Linked DNA regions of Homo sapiens. Changing the gene in region 5 together with the main gene of any one other region gives a genetic interaction. Each region holds a gene or a part of one and is shown on either strand. Other genes may lie near its edges.

The links.
Region 1: changes in SLC33A1 (region 5) and TRAPPC9 together harm fitness less than expected from each alone (positive genetic interaction), as found in Homo sapiens cells (one large-scale study listed by BioGRID).
Region 2: changes in SLC33A1 (region 5) and DEPDC5 together harm fitness more than expected from each alone (negative genetic interaction), as found in Homo sapiens cells (one large-scale study listed by BioGRID).
Region 3: changes in SLC33A1 (region 5) and CHRAC1 together harm fitness less than expected from each alone (positive genetic interaction), as found in Homo sapiens cells (one large-scale study listed by BioGRID).
Region 4: changes in SLC33A1 (region 5) and ARL5B together harm fitness less than expected from each alone (positive genetic interaction), as found in Homo sapiens cells (one large-scale study listed by BioGRID).

Annotation. Positions count from the first base shown.
Region 1 is NC_000008.11:140,432,665-140,438,930, forward strand, and holds part of TRAPPC9 (trafficking protein particle complex subunit 9), read right to left. Parts: intron 2,577-6,266; coding exon 2,448-2,576; intron 1-2,447. UniProt on the Homo sapiens protein: Functions as an activator of NF-kappa-B through increased phosphorylation of the IKK complex. May function in neuronal cells differentiation. May play a role in vesicular transport from endoplasmic reticulum to Golgi.
Region 2 is NC_000022.11:31,815,015-31,821,280, reverse strand, and holds part of DEPDC5 (GATOR1 complex protein DEPDC5), read right to left. Parts: coding exon 6,069-6,266; intron 5,866-6,068; coding exon of another isoform or gene 5,852-5,865; exon of another isoform or gene 5,290-5,851; intron 2,260-5,289; coding exon 2,056-2,259; intron 1-2,055. UniProt on the Homo sapiens protein: As a component of the GATOR1 complex functions as an inhibitor of the amino acid-sensing branch of the mTORC1 pathway.
Region 3 is NC_000008.11:140,513,129-140,519,227, reverse strand, and holds the end of CHRAC1 (chromatin accessibility complex protein 1), read right to left. Parts: intron 4,860-6,099; coding exon 4,733-4,859; intron 4,103-4,732; coding exon 3,981-4,102; 3' UTR 2,074-3,980; downstream 1-2,073. UniProt on the Homo sapiens protein: Forms a complex with DNA polymerase epsilon subunit POLE3 and binds naked DNA, which is then incorporated into chromatin, aided by the nucleosome remodeling activity of ISWI/SNF2H and ACF1.
Region 4 is NC_000010.11:18,667,535-18,673,800, forward strand, and holds part of ARL5B (ADP-ribosylation factor-like protein 5B), read left to right. Parts: intron 1-995; coding exon 996-1,143; intron 1,144-5,087; coding exon 5,088-5,171; intron 5,172-6,266.
Region 5 is NC_000003.12:155,818,787-155,824,456, forward strand, and holds the end of SLC33A1 (acetyl-coenzyme A transporter 1), read right to left. Parts: 3' UTR 2,238-5,670; downstream 1-2,237. UniProt on the Homo sapiens protein: Acetyl-CoA transporter that mediates active acetyl-CoA import through the endoplasmic reticulum (ER) membrane into the ER lumen where specific ER-based acetyl-CoA:lysine acetyltransferases are responsible for the acetylation of ER-based protein substrates, such as BACE1.

The DNA.
Region 1 (6,266 bases), on a different chromosome or scaffold from region 5:
GATCGATACCATCCTGGCTAACACGGTGAAATCCTGTCTCTACTAAAAATACAAAAAATTAGCCAGGCGTGGTGGCGGACGCCTGTAGTCCCAGCTACTCGGGAGGCTGAGGCAGGAGAATGACGTGAACCCGGGAGGCGGAGGTTGCAGTGAGCCGAGATCGCGCCACTGCACTCCAGCCTGGGCAACAGAGCAAGACTCTGTATCAAAAAAAAAAAAAGTCATGTCTCTATATTTCAGTCAGTAAATAGCCTAAGTGTCTTACAAAAAAATACTTCCCAAAGGACTGCCAACTATTAATCATACAATTTTGTTGAAATACAAACACATTTATTTATATATTAAAACAGCATAATCGGCCAAGCACAGTGCTCACACCTGTAATCCCAGCACTTTGGGAGGCCGAAGCGGGTGGATCACTTGAGTCAGGAGTTGGAGACTAGCCTGGCCAACATGGCGAAACCTCGTCTCTACAAAAATTAGCTGGGCATGGTAGCACACACTTGTAATCCTGTTACTCAGGAGGCTGAGACACAAGAATCACTTGAGCCCGGGAGGCAGAGGTTATAGTGAGCCGAGATCATGCTGCTGCACTTCAGCCTGGGCAACAGAGCAAGACTCTGTCTCAAAAAACAACACACAGGCCAGGAGCGGTGGCTCACACCTGTAATCCCAACACTTTGGGAGGCCGAGGCAGGCAGATCACTTATGGTCTGGAGTTCAAGACCAGCCTGGCCAACATGGTGAAACCGCATCTCTACTGAAATTTACAAAAATTAGCCAGGTGTGGTGACGGGCACCTGTAATCCCAGCTACTCGGGAGGCTGAGGCAGGAGAACCACTAAAACCCAAGAAGTAGAAGTTGCAGTGAGCCGAGATTGAGCCACTGCACTCCAGCCCAGGTGACAGAGCGAGACTCTGTCTCAAAAAACAACAACAACAACAACAAAAACACACATAATCTATTCAACAATGTCCCCTTGTAGTCAATCTATAAAGGAAAAGTAACTGATGTCAAATCAACGTTTTTACTTTTCTCATCTATTACAGATACAGGAAAAAAATCAAAATTTTCTCAATCACAAAAAAGATAAGCCTGAGGCAGAAGAATAGGATCTAGAGGCAAAGAACTTAAGGTTGTTTCACACAGACTTCCTACAACTACATTGAAAGGAAAACCCTAACTTTCCATGACTAAGTAACAAAAGGACCAGAGGCTGCTCCCTTTGACCTTTTCTGCATGGCAGGTGGGAAACTGGCTGTCCGGAACCACTCAGACTGATTGCTGGTGGAGTCTTAGTTTGCAGAGAAGTATAACTTTGTCTACTTTTCATTTGCATAGAAGCATAACTTTGTAACTTCACCTTAGCCTCTGAGTGGCTGCTTTCCGCAACCAATCAGACTAACTGCAGGCTACCACTTCATTTACAAGAGGTGAGCATGAAGTGGCCAATGGGAAACTTCTAGTGGGTATTTAGACCCAAGAAGATTCTGTATCCGTGCCCTTGAGCCCGCTGCTCGGCCCACTCCCACACTGTGGAGTGTACTTTCGTTTTCAATAAATCCCTGCTTTCATTATTTTGTTGCTTCCTTCTTTGTGACCTATGCAACATGATGACTAAATCCTGAGCCATTAAAGGCAGGTTCATTCATCAAGGACCAAAACGTTCATGTTCATTCAGCATTCGTGGGTCTGCTCTACCCAAGAAGTTTTCTCACTCTTCATTGGTTCTACCAAGCATAAGCAAATCAAACAACTCATTGAGAGAATGTCATCAGCCAATAAAATAAGAAACTGCTCCCAGGCCCTGAATCAGCTTATTAAAATTGACCTCTGGGACTAGCTTCTCCTAATACATAAAATTATAAAAAAGACTTAGACACAGAACCTCAAGTCTGTTCTACCAGGAAATTTTACACAAGTATTCCAGAAATCAACCAATCATTCTAACCCATTAGTGGTATTCAGTAAGATTGAAAGTATTCAATAAAATCAGAACAAAATGTCTCATACAAGATTTCTGGGCAGGGCATGGTGGCTCACGCCTGTAATCCCAGCACTTTGGGAGGCCGAGGCGGGTGGATCACGAGGTCAAGCATTCGAGACCAGCCTGGCCAACATAGTGAAACCCCGCCTCTATTAAAAATACAAAAAATTAGCCATGTGTGGTGGCGGGCGCCTGTAATCCCAACTAGTCAGGAGGCTGAGGGAGGAGAATTGCTTGAACCTGGGAGGTGGAGGCTGTGGTGAGCCGAGATTGCGCCACTGCACTCCAGCCCGGGCAACAGTGCAAGACTCTGTCTCAAAAAAAAAAAAAAATTACTGACTCAACAGATTTTACAGTTTATTTAAATATTAGTCCTAACTCAAAGGAAAAAGTAACAAATGAGTCTGCTTTATTTAAAGACTGCAAGTGAGCAGAGGCCGGAAAAAGGGCAGAGCTCACCTGGCCGGTGTCTATTGGCTGCTTCAGCAGGAAGGGTGCTGCCCTGGAACCTCCGAGCTCCACTCTTCCCACCAGTTCCACCAGGATAGTGATAGATGACAGAAGCTGAACACAATCCTTCCAGGGCAGCTGGGCATTAAGAAAACAAAAAACAAAAACCAGAAAACAAAAAACAAAAACCAGCATCATTAGTCAAGTCAGTGACCCTTCATTAGCTCAAACTGCAGTAACTAACAATGATTTAAACAGGTGGATTATTTGGAAATGCCAATTTTTCTCCCAAAACAAAGATCAAACCTAAAGATCACTAGTTTTTTGCAAATGGGAACTTGCCACCTGTCTTTCCCATGCCCATGTCCAGGCAGGCAATGCAGAACACTCTCACCACACTCAAGGTTTCCCTGCAGGGCTGACTGCACACGTAAAACAGGCCAGCCTCTGCGTTCATCCATTCACGTGGCCGGCATTCCTGCACAAACTGTGTGGCAGACTGCGCCAGGTTCTGGAGCTACAGAGATGTATAACAGAAAGTGCCCTGGATTGAAAATATTTCACAGTAATAGCACCAAAGCAAGACCAGAATGCCTTTCCAGACCATGCACCCCATAGGCATCTGCTCCTTTTGAGGTTGTAGTCCTCCCTCTTCCTCAAAAACAGCCATATTAACTCGCTACACAGTCCGTTCTTCTCTCATGACGTAACAACCTAATAATCTCCAGCTATGCCACATGCCTTAGAAGGTGTGCCACAGTATTCATCTCTATCATCTTTATCCATTAACTCAGTGCTCCTTAAACTTTTGGTCTAAAAACTCCTTGATGCTCTTAAAAATGACTTAGGATCACAAAGAGCTTTTTTTGTGATGTGGGTTACACCTGTAGATATTTACCATATTGGAAAATAAAACTGAGAAAAGGATTTAAGTATTTATGTATTAATTCCTCTTAAAATAGGCCAGACGCAGTGGCTCATGCCAGTAATCCCAGCACTTTGGGAAGCCAAGGTGGGTGGATCACTTGAGGTCAGGAGTTCAAGACCAGCCTGGCCAACATGGTGAAACCCTGACTCTACTAAAAATACAAAAATTGGCCAGGCATGATAAAACACACCTGTAGCCCCAGCTACTCGGGAGGCTGAGGCAAGAGAATCGCTTGAACCTGGGAAATGGAAGTTTCAGTGAGCTGAAATCACGCCATTGCACTCCAGCCTGGGCGACAGAGTGAGACTGACTCAAAAAAATAAAAATAAAAAATAAAATAATAAGCTTGTCATGTGTTAACAGTTTTATGAAAAATAATTGTTTTCCAAAACAAAAATAAAGTACTGGAGGAATGGCATTATTTGACATGTTCACACATTTCTTTAATATCAGAGTTAATACAAGTCAGCTGGATCTTCTATCAGCTTCTACATTCAGTCTGCTGTGATGTCAGGCCTAAGTAGCTTGTGGACAACTCCACTGTCCACTTCTGAGAGGCTGAGCATGGAAGAGGCCCACGGCACACAGCACCGTCCTTCTCTGTGTGCCCTTTAGGAGCCCTCCTCATCCAGTCCAGCGCCGCATGGGGAAGGCATATGGGCAGTACCAGTCTTTCTGGAGAAGCACCTGCTGCACATGCCCTAGTCTCAGAGCCCACTGGGAGATGCACAGATTCTCTAATTGATACAATAAGGAGTACTTAGGGAGACAATGCTCTTTCAAGAAAACCAAGTAAAACTATGTCTTTCTCAGCCTGCATAATCCTTTATCTGATTCTCTTTTCTTTTCCATCCCTAATTCTTACTCCCTTTCTTTCCCCACTTCTATTTCCCTAGCCTCTTTAAAAAACTAAATTTAAGTCCATTTTAAGTTTTATTTTGGTTTTTTCTTAAGAGACAAAGTCTCACTCTTGCTCAGGATGGAGTGCAGTGGTGCGATCGTGGCTCACTGCAGCCTTGACCTCCTGAGCCCAAGCGATCCTCCTGCCTCACCCTCACAAGTAGCTGGGACTACAGGCACAGACCACCAAGCCCAGCTAATGTCTTTTTATTTTATTTTATTTTATTTTATTTTGGTAGAAGTGAGGTCTCCCTATGTTGCTCAGGCTGGTCTCCACCCAGTTAATGTTTTTTAATTTTGTTTTGTAGAAGTGAGGTGAAGTAAGATTTTTTTATTTTTTATTTTTTGTAGAAGTGTTGGGATTACAGGCATGAGCCACCATGCCTGGCCGTTTGAAGTATTTCTTATATTTGGCTGGGCACAGTGGCTTATGCCTGTAATCCCAGCACTCTGGGAGGCCAAGGCAGGCATATCAGCTGAGGTCGAGTTCAAGAGCAGCTCGGCCAACATCGCAAAACCCCGTCTCTACTAAAAATAGAAAATTTAGCCGGGTGTGGTAGTGCATGCCTGTAAGTCCCAGCTACTCGGAAGGCTGAGGCAGGAGAATCGCTTGAACCCAGGAGGCGGAGATTGCAGTGAGCCAAGATCATGCCACTGCACTCCAGCCTGGGCAACAGAGCGAGACTCCGTCCCCAAGAACGAAAGAATTTGTTATATTTAATATGTTCTACGGCACCTCGTTAAACTTCTGTTACAGAACTCACCTCATTACTTCATTCCGACTTGTATTATCATAAGTGGCTGACAGGTGTCCTTGCTAAACTGTCAACCTCAACGAAAGAACCCTGTTTTAGTCCTTACCCACACAATGGACTCAGCCAGTCCATCCTCCCAGGACCACCTCCAGGAGGCGCAGTCCCCAAAGGGAAGACCACACACAGACATCCGATTCCACCACGAAGTGTCAGCAACATCTCAGGCAGGGCACCCGCTCTGCCGACTGCTGCGGGGGATCAGAGATGGCTGTGCTTTGAAGTAGGATTTCTTCTTCCCTTTCTTTTAATTTTTAAGATTGACATAGAGTTCACATACCATATAATTCACCCACTTAAAGTGTGCAAGTCAGCAGTTTTTAGTATATTCACAACTGTGCAACCATCACCACTAACTGACTCTGGAACATTTTCATCACCCCAGAAAGAAACCTTATGCCCGTTAACTGTCACTTCCCATTCCCCCTCCTCCCAGCCCCTAGAACCAGTTGTCTACTTTCTGCTTCTATAGATTTGCCTATTCTAGCCACTTCATATATATAGAATCATACAATCTGCGGCCTTTTTCATGCCTGCCTTCTCTCACTTAGCACAAAGTTGTCAAGGTTCATCCGTGCTGCAGTGGTATCACAATTTCACTCCTTTTCATGGCTGAATAATATTCCGCTGTATGCCCATACCACATTTCGTTTATCCATTCATCATGTGACACATGGAGGAGGTTTTGAGGGAGGAGTCTAAGAGGTGAAGATCATGGGGAACGGCATCCAAAGCAGAGGGCAAGGTATACTAAGAACAGAGGAAAAGGGAAAGTGTGGGCAGGGCCTCCTTCAGAGGACGCATGGCAGGGTGGGAGGAGGGCAGCAGATACAGCAGGGAAGCATCCCAGGCCACTGCTCGTGGCAACCAGCACAGGCTGGCTGCTTTTCCTCCCTCATCCCTTCTTTTTGGGGAATTTCTTCTGCCGTTTCCTCTCATTTCTTTTTTTATTTTATTTTATTTTTTTTTGAGATGGAGTCTCGCTCTGTTGCCAGGCTGGAGTGCAGTTGTGCAACCTCTGCTCACTGCAACTTCTGCCTCCTGGTTCAAGAAATTCTGCTGCCTCCGCCTCCCGAGTAGCTGGGACTATAGGCGCGTGCCACCACGCCCAGCTAATTTTTGTATTTTTAGTAGAGACGTGGTTTCACCATGTTGGCCAGGATGGTCTCAATCTCTTGACCTCATATT
Region 2 (6,266 bases), on a different chromosome or scaffold from region 5:
ATATTTTAGGATATTCTGCCTCAGGTGTGTCAACTGAATAGCCACAGTGAAATATACAAGTATAGGAGGCATGGCCCCTTGCCAGGAGGGCTAACACAAACTCAGTAAGAGGGAAATACAAGTGAAACACCAAATGATTCTGTTAATACCTAGGAGAGTAACAACTGTGACTCTAAGAAGCAGAAGATGTTTAAGTGCAAAAAAGGCAGAGTAGGAAACAAATTACAATTAGTCAAGTCTACAAAATGAGGCTTCCTGGGAAAGGAGAACTTGTAGAGCTAAGTGTTCAACAAAGTTAACAGCGATTGAAGGAAGAGGGCATCTGGGTAGATGAAATGATACCTGTGAAATCCCAAACCTGAAAGAGGCAAAACGTGCAGGAGACCACAAGATTAGCCAAGAAGGAAGAGAGCCTCTGAGGATAGGAATGAGGAAGACAGGGAACCCTGATGAAGGAGGGCCTTGGCTACTGAAAGGCCAGCTAAACAGGAGGAAGAAGCGAAGCAAACTGTTTGCAGAATATGGTTCCAATAAAGTGTACATGAAGAGTGGGAGGAGGAGAAGCACAGAAGCATGAAAAGATGAAGGTCACTGAAGAAACACCAAGAGTTCTAAGTGACCTGGAAGGGAACCAGTGGAGACAATAATGGAGGGGAAAGGACACAGAAAGAAACAAGTAGTGTGACTGATTATAGCAGAGATAAGGGGGCAGAACGGGGTTTAGGCATGACCCCCCAGTTACAGCCAAATGATTCAGATCTATTTCTCACTTATTTAACTTTTAAATATTAAAGGCAAGTACAAAAGAAAATAGGCATTTCCAGGTATTCAGCAGGATGGTTTCCATGAAAAAAATAAAATAAAAATTTGGCCAGGCACGGTGACTCACGCCTGTAATGCCAGCACACTGGGAAGCCGGGGTGGGTGGACTGCTTGAGATCAGGAGTTTGAGACCAGCCTGACCAACATGGTGAAACCCCGTCTCTACTAGAAATACAAAAATTAGCCAGGTGTGGTGATGTATGCCTGTAATCCCAGCTACTTGGGAGGCTGAGGCAGAAGAATTGTTTGAACCCAAAAGGCAGAGGTTGCAGTTATCTGAGATCACGCCACTGTACTCCAGCCTACGTAACAGAGTGAGACACTGTCTCACACACACACACACACAAAATCCTGGAGTTTAATGCATTTGTTCCTTTCCAGCTCAATAAGAGCCCATTAAGCTAAAGTTTAATTTTAGCCACAGCTTGAGACAATCTTACTGTCATCTTCTTGAGAACAGAATATAGATAAAAAAGAATGGACTAGGAAAAAGTGAATTCAGGGGAAAATTTTTTTTCAGTTGTCAGAGAGACCTAACAGAAAACAAAACAACATAACTCCTTGTAACCAAGACAGGATATCAATATCCAAGAGATCTAAGAGAAGAAGGAATGAACAAGAATGAGGGACATCTGACTTAGGAAAGAAAGCAGGTGGCAATGCATAGTTCCTCTCAAATAGAAACAAAGGGCCGGATGCGGTGGCTCACATCTATAATCCCAGCACTCTGGGAGGTTAAGGTGGGCAGATTGCTTGTGTCCAGGAGTTCAAGACCAGCCTAGGCAACATGGTGAAACCCTGTCTCTACTAAAAATACAAAAAACTAGCCAGGCCTGGTGGCACGTACCTACAGTCCCAGCTACTTGGGAGGCTGAGGTGGGAGAATCACCTGAGCCCTGAAGGTTGAGGCTGCAGTGAGCTGAGACTGCACCACTGCACTCCAGCCTAGGCAACTAGAGTGAGACCCTGTCTCAAAAGAAAAAAAAAAAAAAAAGGGCAGAAACAAACAAAAAAGCCCTCAGGTTTATACAGCTAATTAGTTACAAAGCCTATTCCCAAGTGCATCTTCAAGGATCTTTACAAGAACCCCTGGGATGGCCAAAGTGGGCATGGTTATCCCATCTTACAGGTGGAGCAACAGAGGCACCTGACCAAGGACACATGGGTGACCGACACTGAGGACCAGGGCTAGGAGCTCCTAGTCCAAGGCTCTCTCTTAAGCAACCAACTTACCCACAGGAAAAGTGTGCATCCAGCGCCTTCTGTTGGACGTAAGCTTCATGGGCATCCGAGAGGGAGCGAAGGGGTTAATCAGTGCTCTCTGGGGCGTGTATCCACCAGGTCGAACATGCAGCATGGATTCTGCACTGCCAACGTGAAACCTCCCTGGTGCACTGGAGTCTCGCTGTGGTGGCTCCATCATGTTCTCCAGGACATCTGCCAGTTATCATGGAGTTGAGTCACAAAGAAAAACCACAGAACCACAGTGAAACCAGAGCTAGGTAGAATGATAAACCAAGGCTGACAAGAATCTTGGGCATTATAAATGTCAGGGAGTGAGAGAAATGAGCAAAACTGTCAAACTATAAAGAAATGAAATATGTTTGCATTTGTTTGCTTTTAAATACTTGGGAGAAGGGAGTTTTGGTTCTAAATTACTGGCAAAATGAAGTCACAACCAAATCTGATGGGAAGGACACTGCCTGAAGATCCTGAACTTTGAGCTGGAAGCAATGACTGAATGATGGGACTTGAGTTGTCTCCCTTGGGAAAGGAACGAGTATATTCTCTAAGAGGGAGGAACAATAAAAATAGCTATGTGGTCACCAGAAGGGCAGATCTTGGCAGAGCTAGTCAATGTCTTCACTATAAACCCATTTGATTTTCCTACTGGACACAAGACTATAGTTCCCAGACCCTTTGCAATAAAGCCAAATGACTTAGTTCTGGCCAGGTAGAAATTATATGCTTCAAATCCAGGCCTGGACCACAATGATCTCCACAAATGATCTGCATTCTTTTTCCCTTTGTGGCAACCCAGGAGACCAATGTTGATAATCATGGCATCCCAGGATGGAAGGAACCTGAGTTCCTGAATGGACTGAGTGGATCAGTAGCCCCTCCACTGACTTAGTGGGCTGGGACATGAGTAAGCAATAAAATGTTATTATGCTAAAAAAATTACTGAGAAAAAAATAACGAAGAAATGGATGCCTCCAGCCTTGACCAGGCAAGGAGATGGTATGATATTTAGACACCACCTGTCTGGCGCAATGGTAGACAGGTCCCATTATGGAGACAGAGACAGCATGCCTGAGTGGATCAAAGAACTGAAATCCACAACCAACTCTTCTTGTGTGTATTCCATGTTCATTAAGCAACCACCCAGATGAAAAAGTGGGTCCAGCAGATGCAAACTCCAAGGAATTTGTCTTGGCCATCATTATCTACCCAATGCCTAGCACAGAACCTCATACACTGTAATACTGTATTTCATTCCTCAAGTTGCTTTGCAGGAAAGAAGAGAATGTTCAGATTTCTGTGAAAGTTTTACTGTTCATTGTAAATTAATGAATTGATGCTCTAACTTACAAAATAAAAAAGAACATAGTCTAGTTAGTTATTAAGGAAATAAAAGAGAAAAACCTAGTAAAAAAAAAAAGATGAGTACAGGCCAGGTACAGTAGCTTATTCCTGTAATCCCAGCACTTTGGGAGACCAAGGTGGAAGGATCACTTGAGCCCAGGAGTTCGAGACCAGCCTGGGCAACAGATTGAGACCGTCCCTACAAAAACTTTAAAAACTAGCCGGGTGTGGTGGTGCACACCTGTAGTCCCAGCTATTTGGGAGGCTGAAGTGGGAGGATCACGTGAGCCCAGGAGGTTGAGGCTGTAGTGAGCCAATATTGTACCACTGCACTACAGCCTGGGCAACAGAGTGAGAACCTGTCTCAAAACAAACAAATAAAAGAAACCACCCATGAAACTGCTCAGGCCATCAAGGGTATGCATATATAAAAAGCCACCAAGTATATGAAAGATGTCACTTTGGCCAGGCAAGGTGGCTCACGCCCGTAATCCCAGCACTTTGGGAGGCTGAGGTGGGCAGATCACCTGAGGTCAGGAGTTCGAGACCAGCCTGACCAACATGGTGAAACCCCATCTCTACTAAAAATACAAAAATTAGCCAGGCATGGTGGCAGGCACCTGTGATCACAGCTACTCGGGAGGCTGAGGCAAGAGAATTGCTTGAACCCGGGAGGCAGAGGTTGCAGTGAGCCAAGATCACGCCATTGCACTCCAGCCTGGGGGACAAGAGTGAAACTCCATCACAAAAAAAAAAGAAAGAAAGAAAGAAAGAAATATGTCACTTTACAGAAACAATGTGTACCATTTCCACATTACAATGATGGAGATAGTAGGTGGTCCCAGGCCACACAGCACGGCTGCACACGGGGTCAGTGGCCAAAAAAGAGTACTGAATTATTGCTACATATGCTTAAAAATGCACAGTCATGCCGAACTTAAGGGTTCAGGTGCAGATCCTCTGGTCATTGAGCATGTCCAGGTGAACAAAGCACCCAAGATGTGCTGCCTGATGTAAAGAGCTCATGGTCAGATTAACCCATACATGAGCTCCCCCTGCGAAACCAAGATGATCCTCATGGAAAAGGAATAAATTATTCCTAAACCAGAAGAGGACATTGCACAGAAGAAAAAGATATCCCAAGGCCAGGCATGGTGGCTCACGCCTGTAATCCCAGCACTTTGGGAGGCCGAGGTGGGTGGATCATTGGAGGCCAGGAGTTTGAGACCAGCCTGGCCAACACGGCAAAACCCCATCTCTACTAAAAAAACAAAAATTAGCTGGTGTGGTGGTGTGTGCCTGTAATCCCAGCTACTTGGGAGGCTAAGGCAAGAGAATCACTTGAACCCAGGAGGCAGAGGTTGCAGTGAGCTGAGATCATGCCACTGTACCCTAGCCCGGGCAACAGAGCAAGACTCTGTCTCAGAAAAAAAGAAAAGAAAAAAAAAGAAAAGAAAGAAACTGAAGAAACAAAAACTGATAGTATGGGAATAAATTCGGTACAAAATCAATGCAAATAAAAGTTAAAAAAAAACAGGTAAGTGAAAAAAAAAGTTTTTTGTTTTTTTTTTTTTGAGGTGGAGTCTCCCTCTGTCACCCAGGCTGGAGTGCAGTGGTGGAATCTCGGCTCACTGCAACTACGCCTGCCAGGTTCAAGTGATTCTCCTGCCTCAGCCTCCTGAGTAGCTGGGATTACAGGCACCCGCCACCACACCTAGCTAATTTTTGTATTTTGAGTAGAGACGGCGTTTCACCATGTTGACCAGGCTGGTCTCAAACTTCTGGCCTCAAGTGATCCACCCGCCTTGGCCTCCCAAAGTGCTGGAATTACAGGTGTGAGCCACTGCGCCCGACCGGTAAATGAGAAACTAAAATGCAACATTAAGACAGAGGTTGTTTTATATATGGCACAAATGGAAATCATAAGGAAATAAACCCTTTTGACCCTAGGCCTAAGAAAAGCTTTCCATTAACATATGGAAAGGCATACAGTTAAATGATGGATGAAGAAAGGCTAAACAAAAAATAGTATAATAGAGGCAGGGTGCGGTAACATTGGTTCATGCCTGTAATCTCAGCACTTTTGGAGGCCAATGGGTGGATCCCTCGAGTCCAGGAGTTCAAGACCAGCCTGGGAATGGTAAAACCCCACCTCTACAAAAAAAAATATGATAATCAGCTGGGTGTGGTGGCATGCTATAGTCCCAGTTACTTGGGAGGCAGAAGTGGGAGGATCAATTGAGTCCAGGAGTTCAAGGCCGCACTGAGGTGAGCTGTGATTGCATCACTGCACTTCCCCACCTCTACAAAAAAAAATATGATAATCAGCTGGGTGTGGTGGCATGCTATAGTCCCAGTTACTTGGGAGGCAGAGGTGGGAGGATCGATTGAGTCCAGGAGTTCAAGGCCGCACTGAGGTGAGCTGTGATTGCATCACTGCACTTTATCCTAGGTGCTCTGTCACCAAAAAAAAAAAAAAAAAAAAAAGAAGTATAATATATACATAGCTAACAGCTAAAGTGATTTGTACCTACTGCACTGGCAAAGAAATCATTAAGATGTGGGATTTACACCCCACCTCTGACCAATCCTCCCACCTCCAGTCACCCACTATATTAAGAAAGATGTCCCTGGCTCTGTCTGTGCTTCAGCACTCTTACCTCGAGTGCTGGTGTATCCCAAGGAGCTGCTGACTTCATACTGGTGCAGGTGGGGGTGTGGGATCATCAGGATGTTGGCACTCTTGCCTAGGGAGCTGTCGTCAGAAGCCTGGCTCCTCACTTCCTCAGTGGGCAGTGTGCGGCTTGGTAGGGAAGGGCTGGATGAAACATCACAGGAGCTGGCACTCTTTCGACTGT
Region 3 (6,099 bases), on a different chromosome or scaffold from region 5:
TTTCAGGTTTCCAAATTTTAAGAACAATGTTACAGAAAAATGTGAAAATTCAGATAAAGAGCTATCTCTAGTCACGACACATAGGTAATTAACCTTAACATTCTGATCTATCTTGTTCCGCAGTCTTATTTTTTTAAACAAAAATCAAGATTTACTTTTTTCTTAATGTATCTAGAACCCTTTACTACTTCTTAGTATACAAAGCACCTCTGTGCCCACTGGCCCTGGGACATGGTAGTCAAAACCGGAAGAATACACAGAAACTCATCTACAGCAATATACTCACTTGATATGGCCTTTGTTATATTCTCGCTATTTCACCATCATTTACTGAATGGCCAGAAGCAGTAATGGTTTAACACTTGCAAGCGAGAGCAAAAGATTCATCTTCATAAAATCATTTTGATAATCTGACAGCAGTATGCAAGGTGGAAAGAGGAAAGGCTGTAGGCACTGTGAGGAAACCACTTAGGAAGCTACTGTAACAACCTGGCACCCGGTTCAAGGAGGAACTGAAAGGGTGAGTGTTCCCTGAATGATCGGATCTCAAACACTTATGGTGCCTTAAGAATGCTTCAGGCTGGGTGCAGTGATTCATGCCTGTAATCCCAGCACTTTCAGAGGCCGAGGTGGGTGGATCACTTGAGGTCAGGAGTTCAAGACGAGCCTGGCCAGCAAGGTAAAACCCCATCTCTACTAAGAATACAAAAATTAGCCGGGCATGGTGGCACACACCTGTAATCCCAGCTACTCGAGAGGCTGAGGCAGGAGAATCACTTGAACCTGGGAGGTGGAGGTTGCAGTGAGCCGAGATCGTGCCATTGCACTCCAGCCTGGGTGACAGAGCAAGACTCAGTCTCGAAAAAAAAAAAAAAAGATGCTATTAAGAGAATGAAAAGTGACTGGGAGAAAATGTTTGCAAATCTCCTATCAGGCAAATAACTTGTATTAAGAATATATAAATCTCTCAAAACTCAACAAAAACTGACATGAATTTTTGTAGGAGCTGCAGAGCCACTGGAACTCACTACTGGTGGGACTGCAAAATGGCACAGCCACTTTGGAAAACAGTTTGGCAGTTTCTTCTTATAAACGTCTGTATCGCATTCCACTCATAAGCATATACCCAAGTAAAATGAAATCCCGTGTTCACACAAAACCTGTACACAGGCCATGCACAGTGGCTCACACCTGTAATCCCAGCGCTTTGGGAGGCTGAGGTGGGCGGGTCACTTGGTTGAGCTCAGGAGTTCGAAACCAGCCTGGCCAACATGGCAAAAATCCATCTCCACTAAAAATACAAAAATTTGCCAGGTGTGGTGGTGGGCGCCTGTAATCCTAGCTACTCAGGAGGCTGAGGCAGGAGGATGGCTTGAACCTAGATAGGAGAAGTTGCAGTGAGCCAAGACTGCGCCACTGCACACCGCCCTGGGCAGCAGAGTTTGCGAGACTCCATCTCAAAAAACACAAACAAAAACCCTGTACACAAATACTTATAGGGCTTTATTAATTATAGTCATCAAGGCCAGGTGTGGTGGCTTATGCCTATAATCCCATCACTGGGAGGCCGAGGTGGGCGGATCATTTGATGTCGGGAGTTCGAGACCAGCCTGGCCAACATGGTGAAACCCCATCTCTACTAAAAGTACAAAAAAATGAGCCAAGTGTGGTGACGCCGTGCCCGTAATCCCAGCTACTCAGGAGGCTGAGACCCAAGAATCGCTTGAACCCAGGAGGCGGAAGTTGCAGTAAGCCATGATCATGCCACTGCACTCCAGCCTGGGTGACAGAGTGAGACCCTGTCAAAAAAAAAAAAAAAAAAAATTACAATCATCAAAACTAGAAACAATCTAAATGGGTAATTATCCATATACCTGGAAAATGGATAAACAGATACATCCATACAATGGAATCCTACTCAGCAATATAAAGGAATGGACTGCTGATACCTGTGACAACACGGATGAATCTCAAATGCATTCTGCTAAACAGAACAACTGCAGACTCAAATGCTACATACTGAATGATTCCATTTATATGACATTCTGGAAAAGACAGGCCACCAAACTGGTCTGTAAGCCAAATCAAGTCATTTTTTAATGGCACATAAGCTAGCAAGTATTTACATTATTAAATGGTTGGAGAAAACAGTATTTCATGACACATGAAAATTACACAAAACTCAAGTTTCAGTTTGCAGAAATAAAGCTCTATTGAAACACAGCCACCTGCATTCCTTCATCTAGTAATTACCTGGCTGCTTTCGTGCTACAACAGCTGAGTTCAGCAGCAGCAACAGAGACTATAAAAGCCCACAAAGCTTGAACTATTTACTGCATGGCCCTTTCCAGAAAAAAATTTGATGACACCTGGTATAGGGACAGAGAATAGCTTGACGGTTGCCACGGTAAAAGGTGGGGAAGGAGCTGACCACAGGGAATTTACTGGAGGGTGATATAGCTGTTAATTGTGGTGGTGGTAGTGACTTGACTGCATTTGCCAAAACTCAGAACTGTACACCAAAAAGTAGATTTTAAAATATTTTATTTTAAAATAAATGTCAATGAACAAGAGGGACAGAAAACACCAGTGGTTGCTAGGGGGCAGGAGAAGAGAGGAACAGAGGAACAGAGGGGAATGTCCTGGGTGGCAGAACTGTCCTATCGATTGGTTACAAAACCATGCATTTGTCAAAATTCACAGACTAGACACTAAAAAGGGTGATTTTACTGAATGTAAATTATAAACTTTTTCATTTTTAAAAAAGAGATAATGAAGGCCAGGCATGGTGGCTCACGCCTGTAATCCCGGCGGCACTTTGGGAGGCTGAGGCAGGTGGATCAGTTGAGGTTAGGAGTTTGAGACAAGCCTGGCCAACATGGTGAACCCCGTCTCTACTAAAAAATACAAAAATAGGTTGGGCATGGTGGCACACGCCTGTAATCCCAGCTACTCAGGAGGATGAGGCAGGAGAATCACTTGAACCTGGGAGGCGGAGGTTGCAGTGAGCTGAGACAGCGCCACCGCAATCCAGCCTGGGCAACTGAGTGAGAATCTGTCTTTAAAAAAAAAAAAAAAAAGATAATGAAATGAGAGGAGCCAAACATTTACCCTAAGTGGAAAAAAAAAATTGGGCTTATGATAGGTTTTCTCTTATAGACAGTAAAAAGAAGTGCCAGGAATTTAAAGCAAAGAACAGTAAGATGAGAGAGATCTCCAATATACAAAATGTTTCAAAATTTTTTTTTAGTACAACATGCTTATACAAGAGGTAAGACTTATTTTTGTATTTGATTTGATAATTTGACTTGGAATTTTTCTGTGGGAATAAAAGTGTTAGAATGCTTATTTTTAAATTTCTCAAAATTTGCAGGCAGTAAGCAAGGCCTTAAAGCCATAGAGGGCTCTAAAACTAGTTCCATAAAGCATTTTACTGTAAAAATATGTACAGATCTTTAATAGAAAAGTATATTTCTTTACAGTAGAAAAATATCTGAACAGTCAACTTTTCTTAAGACAAAAATTCAAATGTAACATACTACCTAAACTATAAATTTAGCTAAAACTGAATCGAGCTGTTTATAAGAACTGATTCCAAAATATACATATATGAATTTACATAACCGATATGTAGAAGCTCTTCAAAATCGACTGTAAATTGAAAAGTTAAAATTGGCCTTGCCTCTGCAGTTTGGAGCTGCAATGGCTGCCAGTATCGGCTGTTTTCTTGGTGCCTGAGCTGCAGGGTGGGCCTGTCGAGGAGGGGCTGCTGTCTGGGTCGCTTTCCCTCTGGCTGTCTGTGGCGTAGGTACATGAGGTGCTCAATCTCGGCCTGGAAAGAATACCTCGAAAGAATACCACACACTGGAACTCTGTGAAGAAGTGAAGACGCTAAAAGCGGGCAGTGCTGTGTTTACTTAGAGACAGTGGAGTGGGTCCAGGGCTGTCCTCGCCAGGCTGGTTTTTAAAGCACTTTTGGTTTAGGAGTCAGCTTCATCATGGTCACTTTCATTATCATTGTCATTCTCCTCATCTTCTTCCCTCTTTTCCTCTTTAAGCATTTTCAGGTATTTACTAGCTAAAATCTTCTTTGGTAATATATCTTAAAAACATAAAGCGTACATCAGCAATTGGTTATGGTAGACTATGAACACAGCAATGCACATTTCAAAATGTACTAGTTCCTGCTTTGACCTCTATAAGAGGTTCCAAAACAAGATGAAATTCAGGCTGCATTTCTGGGTAAAATATCAAAGAAACTAGCATTGTCTCCTAACGAACGCTATAGGCCTCTTTCCAGTCCAATGAGTACAAACCATGGTGTCTCTATGAGCTGCTTTTATGAGCAACCCTGCCCGACTACCTGAGATAGCCTAGGCTAGCCCCAGGGTAGACTTAAGCTCTAACTACGGCCATGTAGACCCACCCTGAGTTTTCCCTTCAGTGGCAGGCAGGGTCCCTGTAGAGAGTAAAGGACTGCCCAGCATACGCGGCCAACCAACATCTTGTGAATGTTGTTGGCTTCACTATTGTTCTAGGTGGACCACATGACAAACACATTCAAACAGAGAAGACTAAAAGTATCTTCCTGTGACAACTCATAGTACTTTGCGGCTTGGAAAAAGTAGCAAAAAGTCTAATTTTCCGTGAGAGCAGAAGGGAGGCAAGGGGTGGGGAAAGAGCTATTGATTACTAATCATTTTTTAACCAGAATGTTTCAAAGACTAAGTACCTGCAAGAAACTGAAAAGTTTCTGATTGCTGTGCAGTGTTTGCTAAATCACTGTAAGTCAGTACTTTCTTTTCCTTTCCACTGCCGTGTCTGTAGGAATAGGTGGCTAGGCATTGAACAAAGAGCTCCTAGAACAAAATGAAAAATGCAAATGAAAGGTGTGCTTTGAAAATGTACCACAGAAATTAATTTTTAAAATTACATTGTTGATTCCTTAATTAGGCTTAAAAGTATATTAAGACTTCAGATTCTCTTGGTTTCTCAAATTAAATTACAAGAAATCACTGGGGAGGCCAGGCGTGGTGGCTCACGCTGGTAATACTAACACTTTGGGAGGCTGAGGCAGGCGGCTCACTTGAGGTCAGGAGTTTGAGACCAGACTGGCCAACATAGTGAAACCCCATCTCTATTAAAAATACAAAAATTAGCTGGGCATGGTGGCGGGTGCCTGTAATCCCAGCCAGCGGGAGGCTGAGGCAGGCGAATCGCCTGAACCTGGGAGGTGGAGGTTGGAGATTGCAGCACTCTGGCCTGGGTGATCAAGCAAGACTCCGTCTCAAAAAAAAAAAAAAAAAAAAAAAAAGAAATCACTGGGGAAAAGAAAAACATGAGGTCAGAAAGAAAGCAAAGCCAGTATCAAAATTGGCGGAGAAGCAGGCATTTTCCAGAGGCTTATTTTAGATGTCTAACTTACGAAAAAGATGAATCGTAACTGTTTAATGACCAACCTCTAGAGTAAAAGAAAGAAGCGGCCGGGAGCTGTGGCTCAGGCCTGTAATCCCAGCACTTTGGGAGGCCAAGGACGGCGGACCAAGGATGGTCAGGAGATCGAGACCATCCTGGCTAACACGGTGAAACCCCGTCTCTACTAAAAATAAAATAAAAAAAAAAAACAAAATTAGCCGGGCATGGTGGCGGCTGTAGTCCCAGCTACTCGGGAGGCTGAGGCAGGAGAATGGCGTAAGCCCGGGAGGCGGAGCTTGCAGTGAGCCGAGATCGCGCCACTGCACTCCAGCCTGGGCGACAGAGCGAGACTCCGTCTCAAAAAAAAAGAAAAAAAAATAGAAAGTAGCAAAAAGCCATTCAAAAATTCTATTTGGCTCAGGAATACCTTTTTAGTCTTCTATTTGCATACACTGTTTCTAAGGTGGTTCACCTACAACTATAGTGACCACAGCTTACATTTTGCCAAAACTTTTCTATTCTAGGAACTGACATACAACCCTCAGACCTAATGAAACAACCGGAACTGATCTTCTCCCTCCTGCATCCCAGTTCTTATAGCAGGGCCAAGTCTTCATTTTTACAGAGGCTGAACTGAGCCTCTTTCTCAAGGTTTTGACTTTAATGCATCTAGTTCAGTTAATA
Region 4 (6,266 bases), on a different chromosome or scaffold from region 5:
CACATGGCTTCAAAAATATACATAAAACCCAAGAGAATTGCAAGCCTCCTCCAACACAGTAGTGACATGTTACTGGCAAGGGCATATTTGTTGAATTAATTGATTAATGTAGCTTTACCAATGATTATGATAATACGAGGGGTATGAGCATCAGTATTCTAAATATATATATATATATATACACACACACACAAACACACACACACACATATTTGAGACAGAGTTTTGCTCTGTTTCTAAGGGTGGAGTGCAATGGCGTGATCTCCACCTCCCAGGTTCAGGCGGTTCTCCTGCCTCAGCTTCCAGAGTAGCTGGGATTACAAGCGCCCACCACCACGCCCTGCAAATTTTTGTATTTTTAGTAGAGACGAGGCTTCACCATGTTGGTCAGGATGGTCTCAAGTTCTTGACCTCAGGTGATCCACCCAAAGTGCTAGAATTATAGGTGTGAGCCACCACACCTGGCCTTCTAAATATATCTATAGTTAATTTAAATTTTTACTTGCCCATGGTCATCTTTTTAGGACTACTTTAGATTAATATGCCTGAATTAATTTTTGTGACTAAGTCTCAATTTAGACAGTCTTCAAAATTATAGATAGCCTGCTATCCAATATTTGCTATTTTGCAATCACCTAGAAACTTGCTTTTCAGGATGGCATGGGACATTGGGTCTTATCTAACTGATAACAGGGCATGGTGGTATTGGAATTTTTGGCCACAGAAATGCAAATTCACACCACACTGTTTCCTTTCTTTTCCATCAAGCTTGCAATTCCTTCCGTTAAAAAAAAAAACAAACAAGAAACAAGTCTTTCTTCTGGAGTTGTTATCTAGATATTGATTTGCGCAAGTGTTCTCCAGGTTTATAATTTTCATGCTAATGATCACCATCATTGGTGCAGAAGGTTGATTGATCTTAAAAATACAGAGATAAAAGTTGCTTCAGATTCTCAAGATTTACAAGAGCTTTTACGGTGTCTGTTTTTCAACAGCTTAATGAATGAAGTGGTTCATACTTCTCCAACCATAGGAAGCAATGTTGAAGAAATAGTTGTGAAGAACACTCATTTTCTTATGTGGGATATTGGTGGTCAGGAGTCTCTGCGATCATCCTGGAACACATATTACTCAAATACAGAGGTATGCTAAGATGAATTTTGAATTTTAATCCAAAGGTCCCTAGAGTAAACATAGAAAGTAATTAGGCTGCACCTGGGCGTATTGACAGTTGCCTTTTTTTTTTTTTTTTTTAAGACGGAGTCTTGCTCTGTCGCCAGGCTAGAGTGCAGTGGAGTGATCTTGGCTCGCTGCAAGCTCCGCCTGCTGAGTTCAAGCCATTCTCCTGCCTCAGCCTCCCAAATAGCAGGAATTACAGGCGAGTGCCACCACACCCGGCTAATTTTTGTATGTTTAGTAGAGACCGGGGTTTCACCATATTGATCAGGTTGGTCTTGAATTCGGGACCTCGTGATCCACCCTCCTTGGCCTCCCAAAGTGCTGGGATTACAGGCTTGAGCCACCGTGGCCGGCCTTTTAATAAGATCCTTTTTTGTAGGGAATTTGGGTTTCCTTTTTTTAAAAAATAAATAAATAAAAATTTCATAAATGAGACTTAAGAATTTGGGTTTTCGAATAAAAGAAAAGGCAAATAGAAAGATTGTTTGGAGCTATTATTACTTGAGTGCTTACTGTTTGGCCAGGTTCTCTCCATTCATCTTCACAAGATTTTCATGTCTCCAGGGTTGGAGAGATCTGACACGTGGAGATATTATGTAGGTTTCCCCAAGATCTCACAACTTTCTAAGAGACCCTGACCGGTGGAGGAATAAAATATTTTATTAATTTAAAAATTTTTTATACCATGAACATTCAAAATGTTGGTAGATTTTTTTTTAATTAGAAAAAAGTAGATTTGCAAATCATCTCTCAAAGTTCTCTGCCACTTATGAGTTCAGAGCTAACTTGGGGAACAAACCTGGATATATTCATGTTCTATTTCTGCTTTTATTTCTTATTAGAGGCAGATTTTTTTAAAAGCCATTCAATGTAGTTTAGAGAGATTTATCCTTGATAGTATGATTTCACAATTGCATCCATTTAATTGTTCTTTGCAAAGAAGTACACCTAACCAATTATTTTTTTCTAAAATGAAACCTTTTAAAAATTGGAGTTGGGCCAGACACGGTGGCTCACGCCTGTAATCCCAGCACTTTGGGAGGCCGAGGCGGGTGGATCATGAGGTCAGGAGATTGAGGCCATCCTGGCTAACACAGGTGAAACCCCGTCTCTACTAAAAATACAAAAAACTAGCCGGGCGTGGTGGGGCAGACTTGTAGTCCCCAGCTACTCAGGAGGCTGAGGCAGGAGAATCGCTTGAACCCAGGAGGCAGAGTTTGCAGTGAGCCGAGGTGGCACCACTGCACTCCAGCCTGGGTGACAAAACGAGACTCTTATCTCAAAAAAAAAAAAAAAAAAAATTGGAGTTGGAAGGGAAGAGGTAGAAAAGGATATAATATGAATAATTTTTGGTGAACAAAGTTGCCTCTTTAAAAAACATGTATTGTTCTAGATTTATATTATAATAGCATGTGTGTATGTGTGTATATATTCCAATGCAACGTGTAAGTAAACAAAGATGGCGTATCATAGATAATCAGAACTTGTGGTAGCACTGAATTATTTTATTGGGTATGCAGAAGCTGTAAGCAAATAATATAGTTAAAGGGTAGCTTATACATTTATACAGTAAAATAATGTTCTGAAACTAGAATAAGTTAGAAAGTAAGGGAAGGGCCAGGCGCAGTGGCTCACTTCTGTAATCCCAGCACTTTGGTAGGCCGAGGTGGGCAGATTGCTTGAGGCCAGGAGTTCAAGACCAGCATGGCCAACATGGCAAAACCCCATCTCTACTAAAAATACAAAAATTAGCCAGGCATGGTGGCATGTGCCTGTAGTCCCAGCTACTCCAGAGGCTGAGGCATGAGAATCGCTTGAACCTGGGAGGCGGAGGTGGCAGTGAGCTGAGATAGCACCACTGCACTCCAGCCTGGGTGGCAGAGTCTCGCTCTCTCTCAAAAAAAAAGAAAAGAAAGTAAGGGACAAATGACATTGTAGCATATGATTAATTTAAACATCAGAGCTGTTAGTAGTTTTAAGCTCACAGTTAACTCCAGCTGTGAAAAGGGCAGTTATCATTGATGAATAGGTCAAAGTTGATTCTAGTGAATCCATATGTACTTAAAGTGTGTCGAAAGGGTAGTTCTTGAAGTGACTGAAACTCTGGAGGACTTAGCATGGGTCCAGAAAGAGATATCCATTACTGATGCCATTTGCATGAAACGTTCTTTTAATAAGTGATCTCTACAAGAATATCAAAATTACTACAAAGAACAGTGGCGCCTGTCACTTTGCATTTTGAAAATTCTTCACGTGGAAGAGTCCCCCAAAAGCGGTAGTATGTCCATTATAATACAAGAAGTTACAGGTATTAAGTAATTATTGACACCTTCCTCTCATTAACTCACAGTTGTTTCCCATATTCTGTTGATTCCTCCTTTGCCACGCGACATTCTTTCCGTTTATTCCCTTCTAAGCCCAACTCAGTTTATATTCAGATTAGTTGTCTGTTTCCCTAATTTTATTTATTTTTGTTTTTTATTTATTTATTTTTTTGAGATGGAGTCTCAGTCTGTCACCCAGGCTGGAGAGCAGTGCAGCCTCCGCCTCCCAGGTTCAAAGGATTCTCCTCCCTCAGCCTCCGAAGTAGCAGGGACTACAGTACACACCACCACACCTGGCTGATTTTTGTGTTTTTAATAGAGACAGGGTTTCACCATGTTGGCCAGGTTGGTCTTGAACTGTCCTCAAGTGATATGCCCACCTCGGCCTACCAAAGTGCTGGGATTACAGGTGTGAGCCACTGCACCTAGCCTGTTTCCCTAATTTTAAAGTCATCTCTGTAATCTAATTCTACCCTTCATGTCTCAGTTTATTTTGCATCTATCTCCTGCTGTAATAACATCATTTCATCTCATTTCTTAACTTTTTATTCTGTATACAGTGTTCAGCTTAAGGGTGCTTTTTCGCTGTATCATCTCCTCCATCTCCTCCTCCTCCTCCCCCTCACCCACCCCCCACATTTTTTAAAAAATGAGTTAGGGCCTCTCTCTCACCCAGGCTGGAGTGTAGTTGCATGATTCTCAGTACAGCCTCAACTTCCTAGGCTCAAAGCAGTCCTCCCACCTTAGCCTCCCAAGTAGGTGGGACTATGTGCATGGCTAATTTTTATTTTTTGTAGAGAGACAGGTTCTCACTATGTTGCCCAAGCTAGTCTCAAACTCCTGGGCTCAAGCAGTCATCCCACCTCACCTCCCAGAGTGCTGGGATTATATGTGTGTGAGCCACAATGCCTGGCCTATATCTTCTTATTTTTTAATATGCAAACTCCCTTTTTTCATGTATAGCTTTACCAACAGATTTCTCCTCTTTTTTCTGGTGTCTTGCCTTTATTTAATTTCACCTGAATCTCCAGTATATAATGCCTAAGTATATATGTTTCAATCTGGAGCATTTATGGTGGATACTGTTTTATAAAATTGTCTTATTTTTAAAATGCATTTATCTTTTTCTTTCAAACTAGCTTTTCTTTCTAAGAGTTAGGAGATTGTGGTATACACAAGTAAGCAATTATTGACTGTTTAGATGAATGATAATGGAGTACTTTGAAGTTTTAGTGAAAAATATTATTGAAATTAGTGTAAGTTTCTTTTCAAAAATTGCTTTTTACTACCAGCATTTGAAAACAAATCATAGTATTATGTATTCGGGCATCACTTAAAATAAAACAAGTGGGGCACAGTTTTTATTTGTTGAAGCTATGAGTTATTTTCTTACTGTTAACATTTGGATTTTACTGCTTGATGTGGTTCAGTATTATAAAAGCTGTTTATGGTGAAAAAGCAGTAGATGTTTTATAGTAATGATGATGCCATGTAGAGAAAGTACTTAGATTACTTGAGTAGTTTTACAGAAAACTTTTCAGCATCCCATTCAATTTTCTGTCTTTCCTTTTAATTTTCTTCTAGTTCATCATTCTTGTTGTTGATAGCATTGACAGGGAACGACTAGCTATTACAAAAGAAGAATTATACAGAATGTTGGCTCATGAGGTAAATTTTTAAAGTAAATCTTTAAAAAACAGTGTAGTAAAGTATCTGTACGTTGCCTTTGCTTTTTTGCAAAGATTAATGTGATATGATGTTGGCTATTTTATGATTAACACAACTTTATGTACTAAACTGATGAAAGTCTTGAGGTAAAAAAAAATGTTCATTACTTTTTCAAACTTAAAAAACCCTAACACATTAATTTGTAGATTACTACTGTTATTGTAAAAATTTTTCAAAGCTAAAGTTACTTAAGCATGCCTTTAAAAGTCTGATAAATTGAGATAAGCAAAAGGAAAACTTAAGGGTCTTTTCCCCAAAAGTTTCAATAACTGAAAGGTTTTTTTTTTGTTTTTTGTTTTTGTTTTTGTTTTTTTTGAGACGGAGTCTTGCTCTGTTGCCCAGGCTGGAGTACCGTGGCGCGATCTTGGCTCACTGCAACCTCCGCCTCCTGGGTTCAAGCAGTTCTCTGCCTCAGCCTCCCGAGTAGCTGGGATTACAGGAACCCGCCACCACGCCTGGTTAATTTTTGTATTTTTAGTAGAGACAGGATTTCACCATCTTCGCCAGCCTGGCCTTGAATTCCTGATGTCGTTATCCGCCTGCCTCAGCCTCCCAAAGTGCTGGGATTACAGGTGTGAGCCACTGTGCCTGGCCTGTATTCCATGTTTTTCAAACTTATACTATATAATATATATCTTTCTGAATCTTGCTCTTTTTGTACAACATTGTGACTTATCCATGATAATATATTCTGATTATCCATCTTAATATGTACTGCTTTCGTTCATTCCTTTTAACAACTGTATAGTTTTCCACAGTATGAGTATATCACAATCTATTCTTCTAATGTTTTCATAGTATAAACAATGCTGAAATGAATATTAACCAATGACCTTATGTTATACAAAGACTAGTAAGTAATAAGTATTGCCCAGCTCCCACCACCAGTACTCTTAAGTTTTGGATAAACTCTAGTATTTGGCAACATACTACCATATTTGCCTATTAGAATATTAATTATGTATTTTTGAGTCAGTATTTAAAATTCAGGTGTATTTTTTTTTTTCAGTTTGACCAGTTCGACTCAAAAATAAA
Region 5 (5,670 bases):
ACTTAATAAAAATGTTCAAAAAACTGTAAAAGTGTTAATTTGAAATAGTTTCATTTCATTAAAAAAAAAAAACCACCACCAACCCAGAGTGTTTCTTTCTGCTTTTGTAATAATTTACATTTCCTGACTTGCAGGGTGTGATTTCTTCCAATTTTTGCATTAACTCACAGATTGCTACTAAAATAAAATTTTCTCTACTCATAGAAGTGGACTTTTTAAAAATTATCACCTTAACTTGAATTATTTGGATAATTTGCCCCATTTAGACTAGGAGAAAGCATCCAAGTTTTTAATATCACAGGCCTCTTGACCATAATGTAATGAAAAAGTGAGTTAACTAGAATACAACTCCAATAAACATCAGATAAAATGTCTATATTTGTATTGTGCTGAAAGTAGACACAAAGGCTCTGGAGCAGGAACAGACTTAATTATTACTTAAATTCTCTTTGGGAAGGATCTTACCCTTTGGAATATAAGTGTATATCTCTAAAGAGAAGACTAGTGTCTCCATAATTACAGCAACCAGAGATGTCTTCACGGTCCCAGGTCTCATCGCCCCTTGAAATGAGCGTACTGGAGAAATAAATATCTCTGTGTAATGGAATGAACTGTGCTCCTCAAAATTTATATGTTAAAGCCCTAAACACCCAATTACTGTATTTGGAATTAGGATCTTTCAGGGGATAATCAAGGCTAAGTGAGCTCATAAGGGTAGGCCCCTAAGCCCACAGGACTGGAGGAAATATCAAAGATGAATGCACACAGTGGAAGGGTTATGTGAGGACACAGCGAGAAAGTGGCTGTTTCCAAATGAAGAAGAGAGGCTTCAGGCTGGGTGCAGTGGCTCATGCCTGTAATCCTAGCACTTTGGGAGGCCAAGACAGGAGGATCATTTGAAGTCAGGAGTTCAAGCCCAGCCTGGCCAACATGGTGAAACTCTGTCTCTACTAAAAATACAAAATTAGCTGGGTGTGGTGGCCGGCACCTATAATCCCAGCTACTTGGGAGGCTGAGGAAGGAGAATTGCTTGAACTTGGGAGGCAGAGGTTACAGTGAGCCGAGATCAAGCCATTGCACTCCAGCTTGGGCAACAGAGTGAGACTGTGTCTCAAAAAAAAAAAAAAAAAAAGAAATTCTTCAAAATTGTTAACAGCAAAGAAGCCCATACCCAAACACAACTGCTTTAAAACTAACAGATTTTGTAATAAAAGTTCCCAGTAAAATTCCTTTTTTTTTTTTTTTTGAGATGGAGTTTCACTTTTGATGCCCAGGCTGGAGTGCAGCGGCGTAATCTCAGCTCACTGCAACCTCCACCTCCCAGATTCAAACGATTCTCCTGCCTCAGCCTCCCAAGTAGCAGGGATTACAGGTGCCTGCCAAAACTCCTAGCTAATTTTTATATTTTTAGTAGAGACAGGGTTTCACCATGTTGACTAGGCTCATCTCAAACTCCTGACCTCAGGTGATCCACCCGCGTTGACCTCCCACAGTACTGGGATTACAGGTGTGAGCCACTGCACCTGGCCGAAATTCTTAATAATTCCAAATAAAGAAACAGCGCCATGCTTCTACCTGCTCTCCTCTTTGTCCAGACATTTTTTTTTTTTTTTTTTTGAGAAGAGGTTTCACCATGTTGGTCAGGTTGGTCTCAAACTCCTGACCTCGTGATCCACCCACCTTGGCCTCCCAAAGTGCTGGGATTACAGGCATGAGCCACCTCGCCTGGCCCTTTATCTTTTATTAATAGTCTGGGTGGTGGCTCATGCCTGTAATCCCCTGAACTTTGGGAGGCTGAGGCAGGTGGATCACCTGAAGTCAGGAGTTGGAGACCAGCCTGGCCAACATGATGAAACCCCATCTCTACTAAAAGTACAAAAAATTAGCTGGGCGTGGTGGCGCGCACCTGCAATCCCAGCTACTCCGGAGGCTGGGGCAGGAGAATCACTTGAACACGGGAGCCGGAGGTTGCAGTGAGCCGAGATCGTGCCATTGCACTCCAGCCTGAGTGACAGAGTGACTGTCTCAAAAAAAAAAGAAAAAAAAAAAGAAAAAAAATTAACTAAAAAAATAATTGAGGATGGCTTCATAAATAAAGAAAACAAAAGATTTGTTAGTAAGTGTAAGTTACTTGAAATTACTGCAGTTGGTTCTAATTGTGCCAATCTACTGTAATTTTAACAAGACTAATTTGAAAGTAAATTTAGCTACTACTTAATAAAAATGAAAACAAGATATTTCATTAATGTTTTATTTTTTAGAGAATCACTTTAAGCAATTAAATAACCATTTATCTAAAACACTGGATAATTTATTTCAAATATATTCCAAATACTTAAACACTGCATAAATATTAAGGTTTAACACACATCTTTTAATAAATTAACCAAATATAACTAACAGTTCAGATATACTCAAAACACACCACACAAAACTATCAAGGCTAATGCTAGATATTCCAAAAGTGGTAACAGAAATGATTGTGTGCTGTGTATCTCTAATTCAAACTTGGACATGGGCACAATAATTTCATAAAGATCTCAACAATGACAGCTTTCAACATTGAGTATTTTTTCCAATTTTACACTAATTCTTGCAAAGGCAACATCTGGGGACAACAATAGATATAGACTCACCAATATAATTTGACAGTGGTAATTTATCAATTTACCAAATATGCCACTTCCTTTTTTTTTTTGAGACAGAGTTTCGCTCTTGCACCCAGGCTGGAGTGCGATGGTGCGATCTCGGCTCACCGCAACCCCTGCCTCCCGGGTTCAAGCGATTCTCCTGCCTCAGCCTCCCGAGTAGATGGGATTACAGACCTGGGCCACCACACCCGGCTAATTTTGTATTTTTAGTAGAGATGGGGTTTCTCCATGTGGGTCAGGCCGGTCTTCAACTCCTGACCTCAAGTGATCTGCCTGCCTTGGCCTCCCAAAGTGCTGGGATTACAGACGTGAGCCACTGGACCCGGCCGCATTTTTTTTTTTTTTTTTTAATTGAGACTGAGTCTCACTCTATTGCCCAGGCTGGAGAATAGTAGCACAATCTCGGCTCACTGCAACATCCCTCTCTCAGGTTCAACCGATTCTCCTGCCTCAGCCTCCCAAGTAGCTGGGATTACAGGTGCCCACCACCATGCCCGGCTAATTTCTGTATTTGCAGTAGAGACAGGGTTTCACCATGTTGGCCAGGCTGGTCTCAAACTCCTGACCTCAAGTGATTCTCCTGCCTAAGCCTCCCAAACTAATGGGACTACAGGTGTAAGCCAACACACCTGGTTCAAATATGCCACTTTCTTAAATATCAAATTTTTTTCCAATCTTATATTTCTCTAATTTTATAGGGGCAGGTGATAAAAAAATTTCAATTTCACTAACTCTGACTACAAAATTAAACTTTTCCAACATTTAAGATCATTTCAAGGAAAATAAGAATAGGCTTTAATATTTACATTAGTGATTGATTAATTGTAGCTGACTGGGGTATTCAATTTTAGAAATTTAAGATAATTCCCGCCAGGTGCAGTGGCTCACACCTGCAATCCCAGCACTTTGGGAGGCCGAGGCAGGCAGATCACGAGGTCAGGAGTTTGAGACCAGCCTGACCAACATGGTGAAACCCCGTCTATACTATACAAAAAAATTAGCCAGGTGTGGTGGAAGGCACCTGTAATCCCAGCTAATGGAGAGGCTGAGGAAGGAGAATCACTTGAACCCAGCAGGCAGAGGGTGCAGGGAGTCATGCCACTGCACTCCAGCCTGGGCGACAGAGCAAGACTCCATCTCAAAAAAAAAAAAAAAAAGAAATTTAAGATAACTCCCTAAGGATTGTACCTGTACCTTGTGCATTTCAGTCATGCCATTTAATCATTATTCTTCACATAAAATTGTTATAAAGTTATATTGTCTATATTGACAATAAAAAACTATTAAACTGTAGCAACCTTTTTCTAAATGAGTCAAGACTTCTTATGAGCTATGCAAATTAATATTGCTGATATTTAAATATGATCTCTTTCATTACACATTTGGGCAAAATTTTTTTAGAGTAAAGGTGATTAGTCATAGAACTTTCTTTCTTTTTCTTTCCTTTTTAATTAAAAATAGAGATGCAGTCTCCCTGGTCTCGATCTCCTGAGCTCAAGCAATACTCCTACCTTGGCATCCCAAAGTGTTGGGATTAAAGGTATGAGCCACTACACCCAGCCCATAGACTTTTCATTTACTATATAAAGTCTTTTTCTCCTACAAAATATCCATTCTCCTTCCCCAAAATAAACAAGGCTCCTTAAAGGCAATCTTTATAATCCATAGTCAAATAAAAGTTTTTATTCACTTAAGCAGGAGGGAATGAGTTCAGCACATTAATTAGTCTGCCCTGCTATAAGACCTGCCTCTTCCAAAACAGAATTCCAATAAGGAAAATAAGCTATCCATGCTGATTCTACCTTGCTAGCAAATTGGGGAAGTAACATGAAGACTCTAATAGTGGTTTGACTGGTAGAAAATGAAAGAGCTCTCAGTCCCAAACCAAATGGTGATTACATAAAAAATTTGGCATTGTCAAATCAGGCAGATACAATCTAAAGTAAAAAGAGCCAGCAGCGGTGGCTCACGCCTGTAATCCCAGCACTTTAGGAGGCCAAGGCGGGAAGATCACCTAAGGTCAGGAGTTTGAGATCAGCCTGGCCAACATGGCAAAACCCCATCTCGACCAAAAATACAAAAATAAGCTGGGCGTAGTAGTGCACATCTGTAGTCCCAGCTACTTGGAAGGCTGAGGCAGGAGAATCGCTTGAACCCGGGAGGCGGAGGTTGCAGTGAGCAGCTTGGGCAACAGAGCCAGACTCCATCTCAAAAAAATAATAAAATAAAATAAAGTAAAAAGAACATGGTCTGCAGTAGGTGTTTTTGTTTTGTTTTTGTTTGTTTGTTTTTGAAACGGAGTCTCGCTCTGTCGCCCAGGCTGAAGTGTAGTGGCGCAATCTCAACTCACTGCAAGCTCCGCCTCCCGGGCTCAAGCAATTCTCCTGCCTCAGCCTCCCTAGTAGCTGGGATTACAGTCGTGTGCCACCCTATGCCTGGCTAATTTTTGTATTTTTAGTAGAGACGGCGTTTCACCATGTTGGCCAGGCTGGTCTCAAACTCCTGACCTCAAGTGATCCACCCACCTCGGCCTCCCAAAGGGTTGGGATTACAGGCGTGAGCCACCATGCCCAGCCTGCAATAGGTATTCAAAATCCTCCCTAAGAGAAAATAATTGTGCCTCGCTATCTACCAAAGACATTGGTTAAAAAAAAGTCTCAGCAGTTACAATGTACAGTATCACCTTCCCTTCTGTAACCAAAATACTTATTAAATATATGAATGCTAGTTATCAGATTATTTTAAAAGTTTATTTTCTTTCTCTAATAATAAGGTAAAATACATTTTGGAAATCTGCATGGAATGTTCCCAACAAGTTATTTCATTTTAGCAGGGTCTATGACATACAGCTTTAGTCATTCTTTCAATTACTTGGAACCACAGAATTCTCCAAAATACAAAAATTAAATTTTCAGCTTTTATATCAAATAATGGTCTCAACCATTTAATACAAAGCAACATACTTTCTCAGGTTTCTGTTAATAAGGCAAAATAAAAGTCACTCAGAAAAAAAAGGTTA